2 separate regions of the Homo sapiens genome follow, and region 1 is linked to region 2. The links come from fine-mapping of genetic effects on gene expression. Tissue or cell type: whole blood. Region 2 holds a variant in brackets; the other region holds the start of a gene. All regions are shown on one strand. Distances are from middle to middle.

Region 1 (8,107 bases), 67 kb before region 2:
GAATTTTTATCTGTGTACATGGATACTGAGTTAAAGACTAGATTTCTCAGCTTTCCTTGCAGATAGATGTGGTCATATGAGCAAGTTCTGCTACTGGAATTTAAACGAGTAATATGTACATATGTACAACTTCTGGTCATGTTCTTTTTCTTCTTCTTTTTTTTTTTTTGAGAAGGAGTTTCGCTCTTGTTGCCAAGGCTAGAGTGCAGTGGTGCGATCTCAGCTCATTGCAACCTCCACCTGCTGCGTTCAAGTGATTCTCCTGCCTCAGCCTCCCAAGTAGCTGGGATTACAGGCAATTGCACCATGCTTGGCTAATTTTTTGTATTTTTAGTAGAGACGGGTTTTCACCACGTTGGCCAGGCTGGTCTTGAACCCCTGACCTCAGGTGATCCACCCGTCTCGGCCTCCCAAAGTGCTGGGATTACAAGCATGAGCCACTGCGCCCGGCCCATATTCTTAAAAGAAAGGAAAATGCCTTCCCCTTCCCCTTTTCCCTTTTGCAATGGCTGGAATGTGCACATGAGAGTAAGAGTTGGGGCAGCCATGTTGGGTTTTGATGACAGAGCAACAAGATCAAAAGAGCATAAATCTCGAGTCCCAACACCATGGGCTCACTTATTTACCTAAACTTTTTAATTTTATGATTTTTTAAGTTCCAGGGTACATGTGCAGGATGTGCAGGTTTGTTACATATGTTTACCTAAACTTTTATATGAGGGAAAATCATACTTTTTAAAAAAATTTAAACCACTGTATGTGGGCTGTTCCAATGGACTACTGTCCATGCTAAATAATACAAATGTTGAACAACATAGTGTTTCCCCCTGTCTTTAAGGAGCTTGCAATCTAGCATAGAAGTTAAACAAATGATTACAATAGTATATGATAGATGCCATGATAGAGAAGGCACATGGTAAACGAAGCCACCGAGGGGCGATAAAGCCAGTCTATGGAGGACATAATGCTTTGTCTAGGATATGGAGGAGAGAGAGAGTGCAAACCACTTACACCTGCTTGAAACAACTCTTCTATAGTCTTCAGTGACAACATCCTCCTGAATTGCCTTCTACTTCTGACTGATCCTTCCTGGTTTTCTCTCCTATACCAACTGGTAAATGTTGGCCCTTCTCTGGGCTCTCTGAGTCTATTCTCTTCCTGAGTAATCCCCTTCAGTCCAATGACTGTAAATAGTACCTCAATACTGATGACTGCCAAATCCAGCCCTTTCTTCTGGGCTGTGGACTCAAGTTTAATTGCCTACTTCACAGCTCCACCTGCAAGGCTCACAAGCATCTCAAACTCACTGAGTCAAATGTGAATTCTTCCTTTTTTCCTTCCAGCCTGCTCCTCCCACAGTCTCCTCCCTCTCAGTAAAGGTTATCACAATCTTCCCTAGTTGCTCAAGCCAGAAACCTGTGAGTCATTCTTAACACCTCCTTTCCCTTGCCTCCCACATGCAACATATCACCAAGTATGCTCATATACTTCCCCAAACTCTCAAATCTATCTGTTTCTCTCCATCCCAGCCACTACCACTGTGGTCCATGCCACTGTTAACCTTTCTCCTTGCTACTGGTTACAGTTACTTTTTTTTTTTTTTCTTTGAGACAGGGTCTCACTCTGTCACCCAGGTTGGGGTACAGAGGTGTAATCATGGCTCACTGCTAAGGTTGGGAGATTGACCTCTCGGGCTCTGTCAATCTTCCTACCTTAGCCTCCCTAGTAGCTGGGACTATAGGCATGCCACCACACCTGGCTAATCTTTGTACTTTTTGAGAGATGAGGTTTGCCATGTTGCCCAGGTTAGTCTCAAACTCCTGGGCTCAAGTGATTCGCCCACCTTGGCCTCCCAAAGTGTTGGGATTACACGCATGAGCCACTACGCCCAACACCAAAAGAATCTTTACAAACACCTTACCATGTAATTTCTTTGCTGTCTCATAGGATTGTGCAACACCATGAGGCACCCTTCACATTGTATTGTACCTCCTAGCTGTGCAACCAGCCAACATTGCTCCTCTCCTAAAACATAGTGAGACTCCACCTGTACAAAAAAAATTAAAAATTGGCTGGGTATGGTGGTATGCACCTGTAGTCCCAGCTACCTGGGAGGCTGAGGTGTGAGGATCCCTTGAGCCCAGGAGTTCGAGGTTACAGTAAGCTATGATCACACCACTGCACTCCAGCCTGAGTGACAGAGCAAGATCCTGTCGAAAAGAAAAGAAAAGAAAACAGATTACTTTGGTGGCAAAGTGAAAAGTTGATTGGATGAGAGAACATTTTGAGGCAGAGAGACCAGAGAAATTTTGCAGGCAAAGGAGAGATAACAGAGATTAGGATAGCACAGGGATGGAGAGAAGAGGACAGGTGCTAGAGATATTTGAAAAGGTAGAATCAAGAGTTTGGCATCTGACTGGATGTCATAGACAGAGTCATGGCCCGCTGTAGATGTCCATGTCTCAATCCCAGGAGCCTGTGAATATGCTTCATGGTAAAAGGGACTTTGATGATGGGATTAAGATTCTTGAAAGGAGGAGATTACGCTAGATGATGAAGGTGAACCCAATGTAATGAGGGTCAGAGTCAGAAAAGGCAATGTGAGGATTGTGGCTGAGGTTAGAGTGGTGTGCTTTGAAGATGGAGGAAGGGTCCATGAGCCAAAGTATGTGAGCAGCCCCTAGAAGTGGAAAAGGTAAAAGAAATGGGTTATTCTCTACAGCCTACAGAAAGAATACAGCCTTGTAGTCACCTTGGTTTTAGTTCACTAAAACCCATTTTGGACTCTTGACCTCCAGAATCGTAAGATAATAAATGTGTGTTTTAATCCACAAAGTTTACGATAACTTGTTACAGCAGCAATAGGTAACTAATACACTGGGCATGGGTATAAGGGTGAAAGGAGCATTGAGAAGAAGGGCCTTGTACAACTGGGTGGATGGCTGTTTGGGACCCCAGAGTCTGGGAACCCAGAAGCAAGAGTGAATGAGGGGCCGGGTGCAGTGGCTCACACCTGTAATCCCAGTACTTTGGGAGGCTGAAGTGGGGGGATCATTTGAGGTCAGGAGTTTGAGACCAGCTTGGCCAACACGGTGAGACCCCATCTCTACTAAAAATACAAAAATTAGCCAGACATGGTGGCACATGCCTGTAATCCCAGCTATTCAGGAGGCTGAGGTAGGAGAATCACTTGAACCCGGGAGGCAGAGGTTGCAGTGAGCTGAGATCACGCCACTGCAATCCGGCCTGGGCGACAGAGTGAGACTCCATCTTAAAAAAAAAAAACGAGTAGGGGAAGAACAGAAGGTAAAGAAACATTGACGTGGCACTTAGTGAGGTTGGGGTGCCTGTGACACATCCCACTGGACAACTGGCCATAAGGATCTGGCCCTCAGGAGAAAAGCTGACCCCGAGAGAGGGCTTTTGGAGCACCCTCAAATATTCTGTGATTGAAGCCAAGGAGTGAGAGAATTCGCAGAAACAAACAGAATCAGAAGAAAGGAAAGCCTAGAACAAAACCCAAGGAAAACTAAAACTCAAGTGGAGCAAAGGGGAGTGGCCAGAGAGGAAGAGGAAAACCCAAGACTTGTGGGTCACAGAAGGCAGAGGAGGGGAGAGTTTCAAGGAGGAAAATCCAACACTTACGGAGCACCAAAAGAAGAGAAGGGAAGAGTTTCAAGGAGGGGACCAGTGTCTCGTGTTCCTGACAGGAGAAAGAAATGCCTGGAGAAAGAAATGATTGAATATCTACGTCAATATTGAAAGTGGATTTAGCATGAGGCTACTATAGTTTAAGCTTCAGAGACCCTTCATAAGCTCAGGAAGGGGCCCTAGAAACTTCGTATTTGTAATTGTTTTATTCTTCCTAAAGAGGGACTCAAAATTCAGAAACTTCAGGGCCTATCAAATTCTTACCAGTATGATTTCACGGTTAAGAGCTTAAAGCCTGGAGACAAAAGAAGCCTGCTTTCCCTTTCGCTGTTTAGTAACTTTGGATGGGTCACATTAACTTTCAGCCTCGGCTTTCCTCAGTTGTAAAATGGGAATAACGTTTCCTACACCTATAGGGTTATAAGGCTCAAAGAGTACCTACACAGTGCCCCGTACATAATCGATGTTTATAAGCGTTAGCTACCATTGTCACTCTTGTCGTTGTTGCCGTTAGCTACCATTGTCACTCTTGTCGTTGTTGCCAGAACAAGACAATAAACTCCTTAAGAACAGGATGTGGCATCCCCCAAAGCCCATCACAGGCACACAGACATACTTGCCAAGTGAATACTCCACTCTCCCCCAACTCTCTGCGTGTTTAACTAGAAATACAACTTTAATTATATTCTTAGTGCGACACACACGGTTGGCTTTTCAGCAAGATGCCAGTAGCAGCTTCCTGAAAAAGGGTGCCTTCGTCTCAGTGTTCCCCCTTCTTGGTGAGCCCCGAAACTCACAGATCGTTTGTCTCCCGCACCCCGCCGGCTCCTCCCTCCCGGGTCAACCTGGGACAGACGCGGAGATAACGCACTGACAGCATTAGCATTGTGTGTGCCACTTAAAAGGCGCTCAAGGAATAAGGGATGTTAGTACATTTTCCCCCACATTTCCTGGCCCGCACTCATTGCCTGGGGGCTCAGCGGAAGTCGCTTGGGGGTGCGGGGGGGTGGAGGGTGCGGTAGGGATGGAGCCTCGCCCAGTGCTTTCGCCTCCTCAGCGTGCTCCCCGGGCCCGGCTGGGTTCAGGTGTCCCTCCGGGCCGCCGGGGCGGGCTGGAGGCCGGGAGCGGGCAGTCGACGCATCCGCCGCCGCCGCAGGAGGCGGAGCGCTGCACCTGGCGGCCGGTCCTCAGCGCCCGGCCCTGAAACGGGTCCAGCCGGTAGTGACCGGCGGCGGCGACTGTGAGGCCGGGGCCGGGGAGGAGGAGGAGCCGCAGCGGGAGAGAAGGTCGCGCCGGCGGGAGCGCTGGGCCCTCCGCCTCCGTCCTCCGTGGCCCCACCCGGTCCGCATCCCTCGCCTCGCCTCGCCGCGCCCCGCCCAGCCCGTCGCAGCCCCGGAGGAGCGCGCGAGCAGCCCGGGATGGTGCGCGCTGCCCCGACAGCCGCCGCCCCGGCGCCCCGAGCCGCCGCCCCGTGCTCCGGGGACAGGGCTCCCCGCGCCCCGCGCAGCTGAGCGCTGCCGCCGCCGCAGCAGGTGAGTCGGGCCCGGCTTGCGGAGAAGGGGCTCGCAGACCCGCCCTGGCCTCCCCCGCCCCGCACGGGCCCAGCCGGAGGGCGGGTAGGCACCTCAGCCGCGCACACCTGCTGCCGGGAAAGGGGCTTCGGGGCCGGGGCTCGGAGCCCAGCGTGCGCCGCTGTCTCCGCTCGGGCCTCGCTCGCCCGCCGCTCCCTCCCTCCCTCCCTCCCCCGGCTTCCGTGTCGGGTGTCATCTTTGTGGGGTGCTGGGGGAGGCTGCCGCCTGCGCCCCCAGCGCGCCCCGTGCTGGCAGCACTTCCGCAAACGTAACTGGAGTCGGGAAAACAAAGGCGCTGCCCAGGGAGCCCTCGCCGGGCGCCCACAGCTGCTGCCGCGGGTGGGGACGGAGGGTGAGCGCCGATGCCCGGGTCCTCCTCCGCCCGGGCCGACCCGCGCCCTCGCCATAAACATCCCTGGGAAAAAGGAGGAGGTGAGAACCTCCACACAGCCCCAGTGACAAGGACGCGGCCACTTGTGTGGCAGGAGGAGGAAATTGACAACGTCTGCCCTCCCAGGTTAATAAATACGGAAAAAAAAATACCTCTGCTCTGCCAGCCACCATCCTAGCAGACATCCCCCACCTCGTGCTTTACTTCCACTTGGTCTAACATGTCTCTGGAGCCCTTTTGAGATACTACTGGGGGTTGCTAGTCTTTCTGGGTCATATTTATTGCCCATAGAGCAATTTTCCTGCAAATTTAGGTAAGATGGTGGAAAAATACAAACGCAACTTTCCCCCTCGTTAATCCCATCCCCACATGGACAGACAGGTGGGTTAATTACCTTTATGCATTCGCAACCACGGACGTTTCTTTTCATCCCAAAAAGATTGAATAAGCACCTCACAGAACTACTGGAACATATAATACCTTGCTTATTAGTGTGCAAAAGACTTAAAGAGTTGGGGTTCTAATCCCAACTGGTATTTAAATAGATGTGTGTGCTTGGGCATGTCACATCTTCCTGAGCCCCAGTTTTCTCACATGGAAAAGAGGATGGTTGGATATTATAGTGGCCAAAATTTCCCCTAATCCTTCTAGAAGTCCATGATTTTCTAGAAATCTAACCTCTTAAGTATAGATGAATGTGAAGGGTGGGTGGACATACAGTTGACTAAAATATGTAATAAAAGGAGATGTGTACTTGGTAGGTCCTTTCCCCAAGATGTGGGCACTAGCCAGCTAAAAGTGTATGCATCTGTTTTAGCCTTGTTAAGTAAAAGGATAGGATCCTCCTCTTTGGGAAGCTTGGCTTTTGACACGTCAAGCTGCTAGCAGAGGTGCAGGATATGGTCAGCTGTTTAGTGATAGTCAGATGGCTTGTATTTATCACGAGGTGTAAGTAAAATTTAGGATTGCTTAGGGGAAGGATGGGACATTGTTAATGAGCCCAGTGCAGGATGCTCTGGGGAAACAGGAGGAGAGAACATCACTTCAATAATGCATTAAAGCTACTAAGTAGTTGTGTGTCCTTCATGTTTACAGCAGTTTATTTCTAAGGCACTTTCCATCTCTATACAAATAAATATAAAAGCGTGAAGGCAAATAAAACACAAAGACAAAAAGCAGAGTTCACAGGTATTTGGTGGTGTGAGTATTGGATCACCAATTCCATCATATATAGTGTCTGGACTATTAACAGTATTAAGGCATTTTTTTGGGTACTTATTATGTTCAAGACACCATTGTAAACATTTAGTATCTCAATCTCTGTAAGATAAATCTTTCCCCTAGTTCTGTGCATGACAAAAAGGAAGCTCAGAAGGGTTAAGCAACTTACACAAACCACATAATCAGTAAGAGGTAGAGTTAAATTTGACCTCATGTTTCTGGCTCCAAAGCCCAGGAAATTTCCACATGGTGTCCCTCCCTAATCAGAACCTATTAAGTCTCTCCACCTACGCAGATGTCTTCCTTAGCTTCGTGCCTTTGAAAATTAACTTGATTTCAATGTACATGTATTACTTATGTTAACATTTAGCCATGTAGGATAATTTATATATTTATTACGTATGTATATTAATGTGTGTATGTTTACCCTTTTGTCCTCACCAGTTGTAGATTGAAGGCAGTATGAAGCTGACAGGTTTCTTTGTTTTACTTCCTTTGACAGCAAATCTTAATTTGGCAATCTCATTATAGGGAAAGGAAGAAATGCAAAAAATGTGTGTCTGCTAGCTATTTTGCACATTGGCTGAAAAATCAAGATGCTGTATATTAAATGAAAAAAATGGCTGGGCAAGGTGGCTCATGCCTGTAATCCCAGCACTTTGGGAGGCCGAGGCAGGTGGATCACGAAGTCAGGAGTTCAAGACCAGCCTGGCCAAGATGGTGAAATCCCACCTGTAATAAAAATACAAAAATTAGCTGAGCGTGGTGGCGGGCGCCTGGAATCCCAGCTACTCAGGGGGCTGAGGTAGAGAATTGCTTGAATCCGGGAGGTGGAGGTTGCAGTGAGCCGAGATCGCGCCACTGCACTCCAGCCTGGGCAACAGAGCGAGACTCTATCTCAAAAAAAAGAAAAAAAAAAACTAGCTTCAGAAGAAATTTATATACATTTGTTTAAACCTGCATACAGGCACACATACGCCTTTTTGTCCCCAAACTGTTGACAGTAGTTTTTTTTTTTTTTTTTCAGACAGAGTCTCGCTCTGTCACCAGGCTGGAGTGCAGTGGCTCGATCTCGGCCTACTGCAACCTCTGCCTCCTGGGTTCAAACTATTCTCCTGCCTCAGCCTCCCGAGTAGCTGGGATTACAGGCACATGCCACCAGGCTCAGCTAATTTTTATTTTTTTAGTAGAGACGGGGTTTCATCATGTTGGCCAGGATGGTCTCCATCTCCTGACCTCATGATTCCCCTGCCTAGGCCTCCCAAAGTGCTGG
Region 2 (8,107 bases):
TGAGTGACGGTCCAGGCTACTAAATCATTAATTGCACTAAACAGTCTGTGATTTGATTATATACGATTTCATTAGCTTTATAGATTGCCATTATCATTTTCCCTTACCCTAAGGAGACAAATGCGGTGTAATCAATGTGATTAATTGTCATGATGAAAGATTGAGAATTTCAGTCTTTTAAAATGAAAGATTCATAATTATACATCTAAACAGAATGTACAAAATGCCAGCTCATTCATCAAATTCATCATAGCAATGAAAAAAGAACTTATCCTAATTGAAAGGAGATATAATTTATATTCACATTATAATTATAAAATTCAAGTATATATATATATACTTTAAGATGCTTTTCTCAGATTTGATGCAATGGTGTAGCTAGTAAAAGGAGATTCTGTTTACAAATATATAGAAAATGGAAACTTGGTCTTTAATAATAAGAAATTATTGTTTCTAATAATTAGAACTCTGGAAGGGTCTTGAGGGGAGGCACACATCTCAGTTTTGTGTCATTTAAGAATAACAGGAGGGTGGAGCCAAGATGGCCGAATAGGAACAGCTCCAGTCTACAGGTCTCAGCGTAAGTGACACAGAAGACTACTGATTTCTGCATTTCCAACTGAGGTACCGGGTTCATCTCACTGGGGATTGTCAGGCAGTGGGTGCAGGATAGTGGGTGCAGCGCGGTGAGCGTGAGCTGAAGCAGGGCGAGGCATCACCTCACCCAGGAAGCACAAGGGGTCAGGGAATTCCCTTTCCTAGCCGAGGAAAGGGGTGAGAGATGGCACCTGGAAAATTGGGTCACTCCCACCCTAATACTGTGCTTTTCCAACAGTCTTAGCAAACGGCACACTAGGAGATTATATCCCGCACCTGGCTTGGAGGGTCCTACGCCCACGGAGCCTCCCTCATTGCTAGCACAGCAGTCTGAGATCAAACTGCAAGGCGGCAGTGAGGCTGGGGGAGGGGCACCCGCCATTGCTGAGGCTTGAGTAGGTAAACAAAGCAGCGGCTGGGAAGCTTGAACTGGGTGGAGCCCACCACAGCTCAAGGAGGCCTGCCTGCCTCAGTAAACTCCACCTCTGGGGGCAGAGCATAGCCAAACAAAAGGCAGCAGAAACCTCTGCAGACTTAAATGTCCCTGTCTGACAGCTTTGAAGACAGTAGTTCTCCCAGGACGCAGCTTGAGATCTGAGAACAGACAGACTGCCTCCTCAAGTGGGTCCCTGACCCGCAAGTAGCCTAACTGGGAGGCACCCCCCAGTAGGGGCAGACTGATAACTCATACGGCCGGGTACCCCTCTGAGACAAAACTTCCAGAGGAACGATCAGGCAGCAATATTTGCTGTTCACCAATATCCGCTGTTCTGCAGCTTTCACTGCTGATACCCAGGCAAACAGGGTCTGGAGTGGACCTCCAGCAAACTCCAACAGACCTGCAGCTGAGGCTCCTGACTGTTAGAAGGAAAACTAACAAACAGAAAGGATATCCACACCAAAACCCCATCTGTACGTCACCATCATCAAAGACCAAAGGTAGTTAAAACCACAAAGATGGGGAAAAAACAGAGCAGAAAAACTGAAAATTCTAAAAATCAGAGCACCTCTCCTCCTCCAAAGAAACGCAGCTCCTCACTAGCAATGGAACAAAGCTGGACAGAGAATGACTTTGATGAGTTGAGAGAAGGCTTCAGACGATCAAACTACTCCGAGCTAAAGGAAGAAGTTCAAACCCATGGCAAAGAAGTTAAAAACCTTGAAAAAAGATTAGATGAATGGCTAACTACAATAACCAATGCAGAGAAGTCCTTAAAGGACCTGATGGAGCTGAAAACCACGGCACGAGAAATAGGTGACAAATGCACAAGCCTTAGTAGCTGATTTGATCATCTGGAAGAAAGGGTATCAGTGATGGAAGATCAAATGAATGAAATGAAGTGAGAAAAGAAGTTTAGAGAAAAAAGAATAAAAAGAAACGAACAAAGCCTCCAAGAAATATGGGAGTATGTGAAAAGACCAAATCTACATCTGATTGGTGTACCTGAAAGTGACAGGGAGAATGGAACCAAGTTGGAAAACACTCTGCAGGATATTATCCAGGAGAACTTCCCCAATCTAGCAAGGCAGGCCAACATTCAAATTCAGGAAATATAGAGAAGCCACAAAGATACTCCTCGAGAAGAGCAACTCCAAGACACATAATTGTCAGATTCACCAAAGTTGAAATGAAGGAAAAAATGTTAAGGGCAGCCAGAGAGAAAGGTCGGGTTACCCACAAAGGGAAGCCCATCAGATTAACAGGTGATCTCTGGGCAGAAACTCTACAAGCCAGAAGAGAGTGGGGGCCAATATTCAACATTCTTAAAGGAAAGAATTTTCAACCCAGAATTTCATATCCAGCCAAACTAAGCTTTATAAGTGAAGGAGAAATAAAATACTTTACAGACAAGCAAATGCTGAGAGATTTTGTCACCACCAGACCTGCCCTAAAAGAGCTCCTGAAGGAAGCACTAAACATGGAAAGGAACAACCGGTACCAGCTACTGCAAAAACATGCCAAATTGTAAAGACCATCGAGGCTAGGAAGAAACTGCATCAACCAACAAGCAAAATCACCAGCTAACATCATAATGACAGGATCAAATTCACACATAACAATATTAACCTTAAATATAAATGGGCTAAATGCTCCAATTAAAAGACACAGACTGGCAAATTGGATAAAGAGTCAAAACCCATCAGTGTGCTGTATTCAGGAAACCCATCTCACGTGCAGAAACACACATAGGCTCAAAATAAAGGGATGGAGGAAGATCTACCAAGCAAATGGAAAACAAAAAAAGGCAGGGGTTGCAATCCTGGTCTCTGATAAAACAAACATCAGAAGAGACAAAGAAGGCCATTACATAATGGTAAAGGGATCAATTCAACAAGAAGAGCTAACTATCCTAAATATATATGCACCCAATACAGGAGCACCCAGATTCATAAAGCAAGTCCTTAGAGACCTACAAAGAGACTTAGACTCCCACACAATAATAATTGGAGACTTTAACACCCCACTGTCAACATTAGACAGATCAACGAGACAGAAAGTCAGTAAGGATATCCAGGAATTGAACTCAGCTTTCCTGAGTGGACCTAATAGACATCTACAGAACTCTCCACCCCAAATCAACAGAATATACATTCTTTTCAGCACCACACCTATTCCAAAATTGACCACATAGTTGGAAGTAAAGCACTCCTCAGCAAATGTAAAAGAACAGAAATTATAACAAACTGTCTCTCAGACCACAGTGCAATCAAACTAGAACTCAGGATTAAGAAACTCACTCAAAACTGCTCAAGTACATGGAAACTGAACAACCTACTCCTGAATGACTACTGGGTACATAAGGAAATGAAGGCAGAAATAAAGATGCTCTTTGAAACCAACGAGAACAAAGACACAATGTACCAGAATCTCTGGGACACAGTCAAAGCAGTGTGTAGAGGGAAATTTATAGCACTAAATGCCCACAAGAGAAAGCAGGAAAGATCCAAAATTGACGCCCTAACATCACAATTAAAAGAACTAGAGAAGCAAGAGCAAACACATTCAAAAGCTAGCAGAAGGCAAGAAATAACTAAGATCAGAGCAGAACTGAAGGAAATAGAGACACAAAAAACCCTTCAAAAAATCAATGAATCCAGGAGCTGGTTTTTTGAAAAGATCAACAAAATTGATAGACCGCTAGCAAGACTAATAAAGAAGAAAAGATTAAAGAATCAAATAGACGCAATAAAAAATGATAAAGGGGATATCACCACCGATCCCACAGAAATACAAACTACCATCAGAGAATACTATAAACACCTCTATGCAAATAAACTAGAAAATCTAGAAGAAATGGATAAATTCCTTGACACAAACAACCTCCCAAGACTAAACCAGGAAGAAGTTGAATCTCTGAATAGACCAATAAAAGGCTCTGAAATTGAGGCAATAATTAATAGCTTACCAACCAAAAAAAGTCCAGGACCAGATGGATTCACAGCTGAATTCGACCAGAGGTACAAGGAGGAGCTGGTACCATTCCTTCTGAAACTATTCCAATCAAGAGAAAAAGAGGGAATCCTCCCTAACTCATTTTATGAGGCCAGCATCATCCTGATACCAAAGCCTGGCACAGACACAACCAAAAAAGAGAATTTTAGACCAATATTCCTGATGAA[G/C]ATAGATGCAAAAATCCTCAATAAAATACTGGCAAACCGAATCCAGCAGCACATCAAAAAGCTTATCCACCATGATCAAGTGGGCTTCATCCCTGGGATGCAAGGCTGGTTCAACATATGCAAATCAATAAATGTAATCCAGCATATAAACAGAACCAAAGACAAAAATCACATGATTATCTCAATAGATGCAGAAAAGCCTTTGCAAAATTCAACAACCCTTCATGCTAAAAACTCTCAATAAATTAGGTATTGATGGGACATATCTCAAAATAATAAGAGCTATCTATGACAAACCCACAGCCAATATCATACTGAATGGGCAAAAACTGGAAGCATTCCCTTTGAAAACTGACACAAGACAGGGATGCCCTCTCTCACCACTCCTATTCAACATAGTGTTGGAAGTTCTGGCCAGGGCAATCAGGCAGGAGAAGGAAATAAAGGGTATTCAATTAGGAAAAGAGGAAGTCAAATTATCCCTGTTTGCAGATGACATGATTGTATATCTAGAAAACCCCATCGTCTCAGCCCAAAATCTCCTTAAGCTGATAGGCAACTTCAGCAAAGTCTCAGGATACAAAATCAATGTGCAAAAATCACAAGCATTCTTATATACCAGTAACAGCCAAACACCCAAATCATGAGTGAACTCCCATTCACAATTGCTTCAAAGAGAATAAAATACCTAGGAATCCAACTTATAAGGGATATGAAGGACCTCTTCAAGGAGAACTACAAACCACTGCTCAATGAAATAAAAGAGGATACAAACAAATGGAAGAACATTCCATGCTCATGGATAGGAAGAATCAATATCGTGAAAATGGCCATACTGCCCAAGGTAATTTATAGATTCAATGCCATCCCCATGAAGCTACCAATGACTTTCTTCACAGAATTGGAAAAAACTACTTTAAAGTTCATACGGAACCAAAAAAGAGCCCGCATTGCCAAGTGAATCCTAAGCCAAAAGAACAAAGCTGGAGGCATCACACTACCTGACTTCAAACTATACTACAAGCCTACAGTAACCAAAACAGCATGGTACTGGTACCAAAACAGAGATATAGACCAATGGAACAGAACAGAGCCCTCAGAAATAATGCCACATATCTACAACTATCTGATCTTTGACAAACCTGACAAAAACAAGAAATAGGGAAAGGATTCCCTATTTAATAAATGGTGCTGAGAAAACTGGCTAGCCATATATAGAAAGCTGAAACTGGATCCCTTCCTTACACCTTATACAGAAATTAATTCAAGATGGATTAAAGACTTAAATGTTAGACCTAAAACCATAAAAACCCTAGAAGAAAACCTAGGCAATACCATTCAGGACATAGGCATGGGCAAGGACTTCATGTCTAAAACACCAAAAGCAATGGCAACAAAAGCCAAAATTGACAAATGGGATCTAATTAAAGAGCTTCTGCACAGCAAAAGAAACTACCATCAGAGTGAACAGGCAACCTACAGAATGGGAGAAAATTTTTGCAATCTACTCATCTGACAAAGGGCTAATATCCAGAATCTACAAAGAACTCAAACAAATTTATAAGAAAAAAACAACCCCATCAACAAGTGGGCAAAGGATATGAACAGACTCTTCTCAAAAGAAGACATTTATGCAGCCAACAGACACATGAAAAAATGCTCATCATCACTGGCCATCAGAGAAATGCAAATCAAAACCACAATGAGATACCATCTCATACCAATTAGAATGGCAATCATTAAAAAGTCAGGGAACAACAGGTGCTGGAGAGGATGTGGAGAAATAGGAACACTTTTACACTGTTGGTGGGACTGTAAACTAATTCAACCATTGTGGAAGTCAGTGTGGCGATTCCTCAGGGATCTAGAACTAGAAATACCATTTGATCCAGCAATCTCATTACTGGGTATATACCCAAAGGATTATAAATCATGCTGCTATAAAGACACATGCACACATATGTTTATTGCAGCACTATTCACAATAGCAAAGACTTGGAACCAACCCATATGTCCAACAGTGATAGACTGGATTAAGAAAATGTGGCACATATACACCATGGAGTACTATGCAGCCATAAAAAATGATGAGTTCATGTCCTTTGTAGGGACATGGATGAAGCTGGAAACCATCATTCTCAGCAAACTATTGTAAGGACAAAAAACCAAACACCGCATGTTCTCACTCATAGGTGGGAATTGAACAATGTGAACACATGGACACAGGAAGGGGAACATCACACACTGGGGACTCTTGTGGGGTGGGGGGAGGGGGGAGGGATAGCATTAGGAGATATACCTAATGTTAAATGACGAGTTAATGGGTGCAGCACACCAATATGGCACATGTATACATATGTAACAAACCTGCACGTTGTGCACATGTACCCTAAAACTTAAAGTATAATAATAATAATAACAATGCATTAAACAGGAACTGCAGGTAAGAATGATTCAATAACAAGGTAATATGCAACACAGTTCTTAGGATTTCCCACCTCTGGTTCCTGTTCTATCCTGACCTGGCTTAATTGCTTTATTTATTGGTATGCTACAGTGTGCAGACTCTATAAATAAAGATTTGTATACCTACAGAAAAGAAATGACTATATATTATAATAATACATGCATATAACTTTTTTATCCTTTTAGTTTAAAATGAGTTAGGTGGAAAAGGACGGTTTCCATAAGTGACCCAAGAAAAGAGAACATCCATGAAACGGTTAAAGAACAACAGAATAATTTTATAAGAGGAAAAAACAAATGCTGTGTGAATTTAAAAATGCATTTTCCTGTTAATTTATTAAAGATATATTAAATGGTGACTAAGAGCCAGGCAGCATGCTGGGTGCTGAGAATGTAATAAAATATATACATATATTAACTCAGGCCACAAGGTCTCACCAACTGTTCTGGAAGCCAGATGTGTAAACACATAATAACTATACAGCATGTTAGATGGAATCATAGAAAAATGTGCTAGGTAGCAGATAAGGAGCTTACCCTAAGGAGAATAATTAACTTTGTGAAGCAGGGAGTGGGAGGATGAAGACTGTATTGAAAAATTCCCTACAAAAATCACATAAGCTAGATTCTGAAGGGCGAATAGGAATCTACCAGGTGGTCTAAAGAGAGTAGGCATTCCAGCATGGGGGAAGAGCTGTGTGCGAAGGCACAGAAGAGAACAGAATGGCCTCTTCAGGGAGCATAAGTGGTGTGCCGGGGCTAGGGCTTGAAGCATTTATCATCTCAAGCTGCCAACCCAGGACATGTTTTTATAATACTTGTATGCACCTCAGGGATATTATCCCAGGATTTAGGGAGCTGGCCATGTTCTGAATCTAAACAGGAATTCTGCTTCCTAGGGCAGGCTACGATACATACTTCTGTGTTTCATTTTATTCTCCCTTATGCCAGTAGAAACCTAGCTACTGGTCTGAAGCCAGGGAAGAGGATCTGTAAATACAGCCTCCTAGTGCAACAGAGGGCTCTGTGGCCAGTTTCCACAGAGCTCTTTGTTTCTAATGCTGGAGGAGATGGTTTCATTCCCTGGCAGAAGTGAGTGCTGAGTATTTTGACTGCACAACAAAATCAAAATCCCTTGCCTTTGTTTGACCCATGCCCACCCCATGGAAAACAGTAGATTATTCATGTGGAATAAAATCCTGCATCACAGAAATACATTTCTGACTGAAGAGGTTTGTTTTGCTAGTTTGGATTCGTCTGCCTTTACAAGGCTCGTCCAAATGGCTTTAAAGTCCGTGTGCTTAAAGGAGACTCTATTTAGGATGCAGTAAGGCAGGACATGATTAAAACAAATCACTGAATGATTTCATTGGAGGACAAGCCCACTCTCACAATATATAGCCCTTAATTCCTTGACTGGAAA

What was found. PIP is the estimated chance that this variant, and not a neighbour inherited with it, causes the effect.
Region 1: it holds the start of MFSD6, and the variant in region 2 is fine-mapped to the expression of MFSD6 in whole blood (INTERVAL, PIP above 0.99).

Annotation. Positions count from the first base shown.
Region 1 is chr2:190,403,321-190,411,427 of GRCh38, forward strand. It overlaps MFSD6 (major facilitator superfamily domain containing 6), which reads left to right and starts at 5,035. Exons shown (of 8, transcript NM_017694.4): 1 at 5,035-5,183. RefSeq lists an enhancer at 4,306-4,355 and a silencer at 4,616-5,655.
Region 2 is chr2:190,470,579-190,478,685 of GRCh38, forward strand. All of the region lies in intron 4 of MFSD6 (major facilitator superfamily domain containing 6), which reads left to right. It also overlaps a transcript of NEMP2 not described here. Among named protein-coding and RNA genes, the nearest start is that of NEMP2, 60 kb to the right of the region's middle. The variant G/C (reference allele first, on the strand shown) is at 4,219.